Linked DNA regions of Homo sapiens. The protein of the gene in region 1 purifies or fractionates together with the protein of each later gene. This does not show direct contact. Each region holds a gene or a part of one and is shown on either strand. Other genes may lie near its edges.

Region 1 (3,820 bases):
TGACTGCAGCCTCAAACTTCTGGTTTCATGCAATCCTCCCACCTTAGCCTCCTGAGTAGCTGTGACTGCAGACACAGTCCCCATGCCCAGCTAATTTTTTTCTTTTTCATAGGGACAGGGTCTTGCTATGTTGCCCAGGCTGGTCTCAAACTTCTGGCTTCAAGCATCCTCCTGCCTCATCCTCCCAAAGGGCTGGAATTATAGGCATGAGCTACCATATCTGGCCACAAGAATCTTTAAAGCTGCTTGTCTCTTTTATGACAGAGTCTCGCTCTGTGGCCAGGATGGAGTGCAGTGGCGCGATCTCGGCTCACTGCAACCTCCGCCTCCTGGGTTCAAGTGATTCTCCTTCCTCAGCCTCCCAAGTAGCTGGGACTACAGGTGCCCGCCACCGCGCCCAGCTAATTTTTCTATTTTTAGTAGAGACAGGGTTTCACCATGTTGACCAGGATGGTCCCGATCTCCTGACCTCGTGATCCGCACGCCTTGGCCTCCCAAAGTTTTGGGATTATAGGCATGAGCCACTGCGCCCAGCCAAAGCTAGATTTAGAAATCCATTATTTCACATAACTGGTCTCAGATAAACCAGTCTACATCACAATGTCTAAAATGAACAACACCTGTGACAGGTCAGCACAGACTAAGTAAGTGTATTAGTGTCAATTTATAGCTTAATTTCTCTCTCTTTTAAGATACAGACATTCCAATTATTTTCTTTCTGTATCCTTTGCGGATCATCTTGTACTTTGGAAACCACAATTTAACTGCCCAAGTCACTCATAAAAATAGCAAAAGTAGCTGGATGGTACAAAAGTAGGTCCCAGGGCTTCAAATTTGGTTGAATATTGACTCCAGTAGGCAGCCACCTACTACTGAGCAAACCTAACCCTCAGTTATGTCATTTGTAAAACAGCACTTAACAGTTTGGCCGACCTGCTAGGGCTGTTGTAGGGACAAAAGAAGATGGTGCGTGTACTGCTTTAAGCCTGGCACCTGGCACTCTGCTAACATTCAGCTCTCTGGGCTGGGCACTGTTAATGCTCCATTTCGTAACCTGCTGTCAACCTGCAGGTAAATCACTCTGACTCCAAGCAAACACCCTGAGGGTGGAGTCGGCCTGTTTGAGGTTTCTGTTTGCAAATCTTGATATATGAAGTGACAGTGGAGATTGTACAGTTTTTTCCTCGATTTGTCAGGATTTTTTTTTTTTTGACGGAGTTTAACTTCTTGTCTCCCAGGTAGGAAGTGCAGTGGCGTAATCTCGGCTCACTACAACCTCCACCTCCTGGGTTCAAGCGTTTCTCCTGCCTCAGCTTTCCGAGTAGCTGGGATTACAGGCGCCTGCCACCATGCCCTGCTGACTTTTGTATTTTTAGTAGAGACGGGGTTTCACCATGTTGGCCAGGCTGGTCTTGAACTCCTGACCGCAGGCGATTGGCCTGCCTCGGCCTCCCAAAGTGCTGAGATTACAGGCGTGAGCCACCACCCCCGGCCTCAGGAGCGTTCTGATAGTGCCTCGATGTGCTGCCTCCTATAAAGTGTTAGCAGCACAGATCACTTTTTGTAAAGGTACGTACTAATGACTTTTTTTTTATACTTCAGGAATAGTAAAGAAACACATCATAAAACCTCCCAGGACATAAAGGTGAGCACAGACCCTGTTTGGATCAAGTCAGTTCCTGGAGCCTGAATGATGACTGCTGAATCACGGGAAGCCACGGGTCTGTCCCCACAGGCTGCACAGGAGAAGGATGGTATCGTAATAGTGAAGGTGGAAGAGGAAGATGAGGAAGACCACATGTGGGGGCAGGATTCCACCCTACAGGACACGCCTCCTCCAGACCCAGAGATATTCCGCCAACGCTTCAGGCGCTTCTGTTACCAGAACACTTTTGGGCCCCGAGAGGCTCTCAGTCGGCTGAAGGAACTTTGTCATCAGTGGCTGCGGCCAGAAATAAACACCAAGGAACAGATCCTGGAGCTTCTGGTGCTAGAGCAGTTTCTTTCCATCCTGCCCAAGGAGCTCCAGGTCTGGCTGCAGGAATACCGCCCCGATAGTGGAGAGGAGGCCGTGACCCTTCTAGAAGACTTGGAGCTTGATTTATCAGGACAACAGGTAAAAAGAGGTGAAACCTATTATGTGTGAGCAGGGCACAGACGTTGAAACTGGAGCCAGGAGAAGTATTGGCAGGCTTTAGGTTATTAGGTGGTTACTCTGTCTTAAAAATGTTCTGGCTTTCTTCCTGCATCCACTGGCATACTCATGGTCTGTTTTTAAATATTTTAATTCCCATTTACAAAGTGATTTACCCACAAGCCCAACCTGTCTGTCTTCAGGTCCCAGGTCAAGTTCATGGACCTGAGATGCTCGCAAGGGGGATGGTGCCTCTGGATCCAGTTCAGGAGTCCTCGAGCTTTGACCTTCATCACGAGGCCACCCAGTCCCACTTCAAACATTCGTCTCGGAAACCCCGCCTCTTACAGTCACGAGGTAAGAAGCAAGGTTTCATTTAGGGGAAGGGAAATGATTCAGGACGAGAGTCTTTGTGCTGCTGAGTGCCTGTGATGAAGAAGCATGTTAGTCCTGGGCAACGTAGCGAGACCCCATCTCTACAAAAAATAGAAAAATTAGCCAGGTATAGTGGCGCACACCTGTGATTCCAGCTACGCAGGAGGCTGAGGTGGGAGGATTGCTTGAGCCCAGGAGGTTGAGGCTGCAGTGAGCTGTAATCATGCCACTACTCCAACCTGGGCAACACAGCAAGGACCCTGTCTCAAAAGCTACTTACAGAAAAGAATTAGGCTCGGCACGGTAGCTCACACCTGTAATCCCAGCACTTTGGGAGGCTGAGGCGGGCAGATCACTTGAGGTCAGGAGTTTGAGACCAGCCTGGCCAACATGGTGAAACCTTGTCTCTACTAAAAATATGAAAATTAGCCAGGCATGGTGGCACATTCCTGTAATCCCAGCTACTCGGGAGGCTGAGGCAGGAGAATCACTTGAACCCAGGAGGTGGAGGTTGCAGTAAGCCGAGATCGTACCACTGTGCTCTAGCCTTGGTGACAGAGCGAGACTGTCTTAAAAAAAAAAAAAAAAAAAAAAGAATTAATTAAAAATTTAAAAAAAAATGAAAAAAAGCTGCATGCTTGTTTTTTGTTTTTAGTTATTCTACATTGTTGTCATTATTACCAAATATTGGGGAAAATACAACTTACAGACCAATCTCAGGAGTTAAATGTTACTACGAAGGCAAATGAACTATGCGTAATGAACCTGGTAGGCATTATTTATTGAATTATCAGCATTCCAGATGTCCAGCACATTTTTAATAGGAAAGTATTGGGAACAGATGTCATTATTTTCAGCCTAGGTTTTAAAACATTTTAGTATGTCATGAATTATCTTCAAAAGGATCATAAATCTTTTTTAAAGGTCCATTTTATTTAAAATATATAAAAATAATCACTGCACTGCAGCCTGGGTGACAGAGAGTCTGTTTCCAAAAAAAAAAAAAAAAACTATAGCATCAGTCTTTTCTAGGTTATTTTCAGAAATTTCAAACAATGGGAAAAGAATGGAAGAACTTTTGAGGGGAGTTGAGGAACACGAAAAAAGATCAGTTCACAGTCATATAAATAAAAAGTCATGTTACTTGTTTTTTCTCTTTTGACGGAAATATGTAATACATTTATCCAGTTTTAAAATCAAAGTATGTGCTTAGAATGTAAAGACAAGGAATGCTAAAAGTACATTTATCACTTAATGGCAGGGATAAGTTATGGTAAGTGCAATGTTAAGTGATTTTGTTGTGCGAACATC
Region 2 (3,820 bases), on another chromosome or scaffold:
TAAGACGCCTGCGTGTTTGTATAAGTATTGGGTTCCACCTTTTCCTTGTTATGTAAGCATGAAACTCAGCCTGAAATGAATGGATTAGGAATAAAAGATTTTTTTTTTAAGAGAAAAGGCCCATGGGTATAATTTGTAAACTAAACCTATACAACCAGAAGTTATTATCAAGGATGCAAGGCTAATCTTACCAGCAGCTGAGTTAACAATTATGATTTCAGCTAAGGGATTTGCTGGAGAAAGAGAACCCCATACATAATCTTCTGTTGACCACAGGTAGATTCTCCTAGTCTGTTTTCAGCACTTCTCCCAGTGCCAAACAAGCTCCCTGGAGCTCATATAAAATGAGTTATTATATCTTTGCTTGGTGTTTCTTGGTTGGTAATGTAGTCAGGGAGAGCACAAATGCATTGTGTGAGGTTTACAAATTAATTCCAAATAGTTCTGGGGGTTTTATGGTGATGAATACCTCACTCAGCTAAAAGTTAGGGACTAAAGGTGTTAGAAACCATACTTAGTGACTTGGTGGGGTAAAGAGCATCCATCTCTGCGTATGGAGTTAGGGGCAGAATGTTAGCCTTTCCTGAGAAAATGCACCACATCTCTTCAGCTGTGGTGTGAACTTGATGCTGTGTCTTAACTTGGTATAATGATAGGGTGACTTTTAAAAGTCATGAAATTTTGGTTGCAGGTCCTAGTGTTTGAACAGAGTTGGGATGTGTGTGAAAGACAGAAAAGGGGGTCGTGAGTCAGAAGCACTTAGTGGGAGTACCTACACAGCTTGTTGTAATTTACTTGAGTGGCATATAAAAGTGGATATTTTCTCTGTTTTAATTTTTTAAGTATTTGTAGAATCAAAATTTTTACTCAAAAATAAATATGGAAAGGATAGTGGGTTGCTGTAAGCCACATACTTTTATGCGGTACCAGAGCTTGGTCTTTAGTAAGCATGATAACCAGTTAAATAGTTGTGGCTTATCACATTGATATTTCAGGTTTTCTTCCCCTCGGATCTCAGTCTGCGGATGCCTGGCATGAATTCAGAGGACTATGTTTTTGACAGTGTTTCTGGGTAATAGATGTCTTTTAATTTGATTTTTAATTTGCAGCTTTTATAACTTATTCCTTTCTTGTTAACTTGATAAATCAAAGGTGGCTTTAGCAGGCTTTCCCCTTATCTTACTACTTTTACTGTGGTACAGTCTTGGGTAGAGGACATCTGCTTCAGTGCTTTTAATTTTGAACTCTTTGAACTATGTTTCAAGTTTCCTTAATTCTTGGTGTTGGTGCTTTTTCTTTCTTTTGGATTCTTTATGTGATGGTAGTAGAATGGAATCTAATAGGAGAGATGAGGGGATTAAATTAGGTCTCTGAGGTCCTTTCTGTTGCCAAATATATATAATTAGGTGAGAATTTAGGAGTAATATCAAGTGATAAAAGCTTTTTTTTTTTAAAATCAGCCTCACTAATGATAAAATAAATGAAGTCAACTTTTTTCTGAGCTGACAACTTTCTTTTGACCTCACAAAATTGTATCTCACTCTGGGAGTATGAATATTTTCCAAGTTAATTAGGAACTCATATTTTGTTTTATGTGTTTTTTACATGTGTTATATTTTACAGTTTTAAAAGTGTCTAAGATTTTATGGGAATTGAGACTTCCCTTATAGATCTGCCTCAAGATGCAGGAGTCCCAAATGGAAATACCTTTAGGGTTTAGGATAGGGGTCAGCTAACTTTTTCTGTAAAGACTCAGAGAGTAAATATTTCAGGCTTTGTGGGCCATACAACCTCTGTATATTTTTGCAACTACCCCGGTCTGCCATTGTGCAAAAGCAGCCATAGGTAATGTGTAAACAAATGATGTGGCTATGTGCTAATAAAACTTTAGTTACAAAAATAGGTGTAATCTGCTGAGCCGTGGCCTGGGAAGGTTCTTAAACAACTTTAGGGGCATATATGAGTGGTAGTGTTAGGTAATAGGTAATGTCGAGAATTGTGGAGTGCCTGCCTATTAAAGACATTTAAATTACAAGTAGGAACAACAAAAAAATGCTATATAGGCCAAAAGGAATTTAGTCAGAGGAACACCAGCCACCTGTCTGAAACCTCTGCTGGATAAATATCAGATTGGCAGCATGTCTTGTGAGAAGTTCCTTCCAAAGTCCTTTCCACCTATCAGTATCTTTAATATCTCGAGCCCTCAAACTCAGGATGTCCGATTACTGACATCCATCACATCATAGAATTTTTAATCGGCAATTTGTACTTCCACCTCTGAGAGACTTGAGAATTTTTAGCTGCTGAGTACTTTTGTTTCAGATTTTCTTTAAGTGAAAAAGATAGCAAATGCTATTTATAATATGATGTATAGCAAGCTTCCACGAGAGTAGATTTAGAGACCTGTGACTTTTTTTGTCCTTTAGGAACAACTTTGAATATACCCTAGAAGCTTCAAAATCACTTCGACAGAAGCCAGGAGACAGTACCATGACGTACCTGAACAAAGGCCAGTTCTATCCCATCACCTTGAAGGAGGTGAGCAGCAGTGAAGGAATCCATCATCCCATCAGCAAAGTTCGAGTAAGTTCTGCTCTTAGTCCTGTTCTCTAGGAAAGCTAGTCAGAGCCTAACATTTCCAGGTCTGAAGCAGCTCTGAATGACCGCCTGAAATTGCAGCTTTAAGCCTTCACTGTAAAATATAGTACTAAATACGTTTTCCAAAACATACTCACCCTTTAGTGTCTTTATGTTGTAATGCATTCTCTTTCACAGAGTGTGATCATGGTGGTTTTTGCTGAAGACAAAAGCAGAGAAGATCAGTTAAGGCATTGGAAGTACTGGCACTCCCGGCAGCACACCGCTAAACAAAGATGCATTGACATAGGTAAGCAGCTCAAGAGCCCGCTTTTATTCCCAGAGGTGCAGCCATCCAGTTTTCTAAATCCAATTATTTTTGGCAGTGATCAGCTTCCTGCCGAAAGCATTTGAATTTTTATGCCAGCTACTGATCTGTTCCAAACACTGTCCTCGGCCTCCTGGAACCAGTGCTCTCACCATTGCTCCCATGCAGTAATGGGACATGTGCCCACGTGGTGGCTTTCCACAGGACACTAGGGCCAGAAGCCATGTAGCTGGCTAACCTGAGAATGTCCCCACTGTTCAGTCTGCAATTGCTTTAAGGGGTAATATCTTCTTTAAAAGATTCTGATTATTATTTGGAGATGATGGAGGTAGAGAAAAAAACAAGTAAAAGAAAGATATTGCTGCTGTGCAGTTGCCTAACAGTCTTCCCTAGTCACGTGCTAAACCGTGTAACTAACCTCTCTGTGGGCTGTAGTGGCAAACCTGTGCAAATCTGTATTTACTGAAGTAGCGTTACACAGACCTCTGTTCTTGCCATGTATGTAATTTTCATGTAAAACCATTGTCTGTATCACAGATGGCTGTTTAATATTAGTGTTACTTTTTTTCTTTACCTTTTGTAATGCTCTTGTTTCCTTTTCAGGAGAATGAGAACTCAGTTCTAATCTTGGTTCTACAGAGTAGTTTTGTGACCTTGGGACTGTTATTTAAACTTTTTAGACTTAAATTTCCTAATTGTGACATAATGAGATTGAATTAAATATGTCTAAGCTTGCCTCTATTACAAAAACTCTGTGATTCTTTTTCTTCGTATTTTGAACTTCTTCTAATCGAACAAAATGTTAATTTAAATTGTCCAGAGGTGATAATGCTAAAAACTAGATCTTATTTTGAACTGCTGGGATCCCATGTTGAAACTAAGACTCATGAGTTTTCATTTTCTCTTCCACCGCTT

The links.
Region 2: the proteins of ZKSCAN1 (region 1) and GRHL1 purify together in Homo sapiens (co-immunoprecipitation; one large-scale study listed by IntAct). This does not show direct contact.

What each region holds. Positions count from the first base shown.
Region 1 is NC_000007.14:100,021,817-100,025,636, forward strand, and holds part of ZKSCAN1 (zinc finger protein with KRAB and SCAN domains 1), read left to right. Parts: intron 1-1,078; exon of another isoform or gene 1,079-1,238; intron 1,239-1,602; 5' UTR 1,603-1,690; coding exon 1,691-2,116; intron 2,117-2,337; coding exon 2,338-2,491; intron 2,492-3,820. UniProt on the Homo sapiens protein: May be involved in transcriptional regulation.
Region 2 is NC_000002.12:9,961,460-9,965,279, forward strand, and holds part of GRHL1 (grainyhead-like protein 1 homolog), read left to right. Parts: intron 1-995; coding exon 996-1,072; intron 1,073-2,426; coding exon 2,427-2,583; intron 2,584-2,775; coding exon 2,776-2,887; intron 2,888-3,820. UniProt on the Homo sapiens protein: Transcription factor involved in epithelial development. Binds directly to the consensus DNA sequence 5'-AACCGGTT-3'.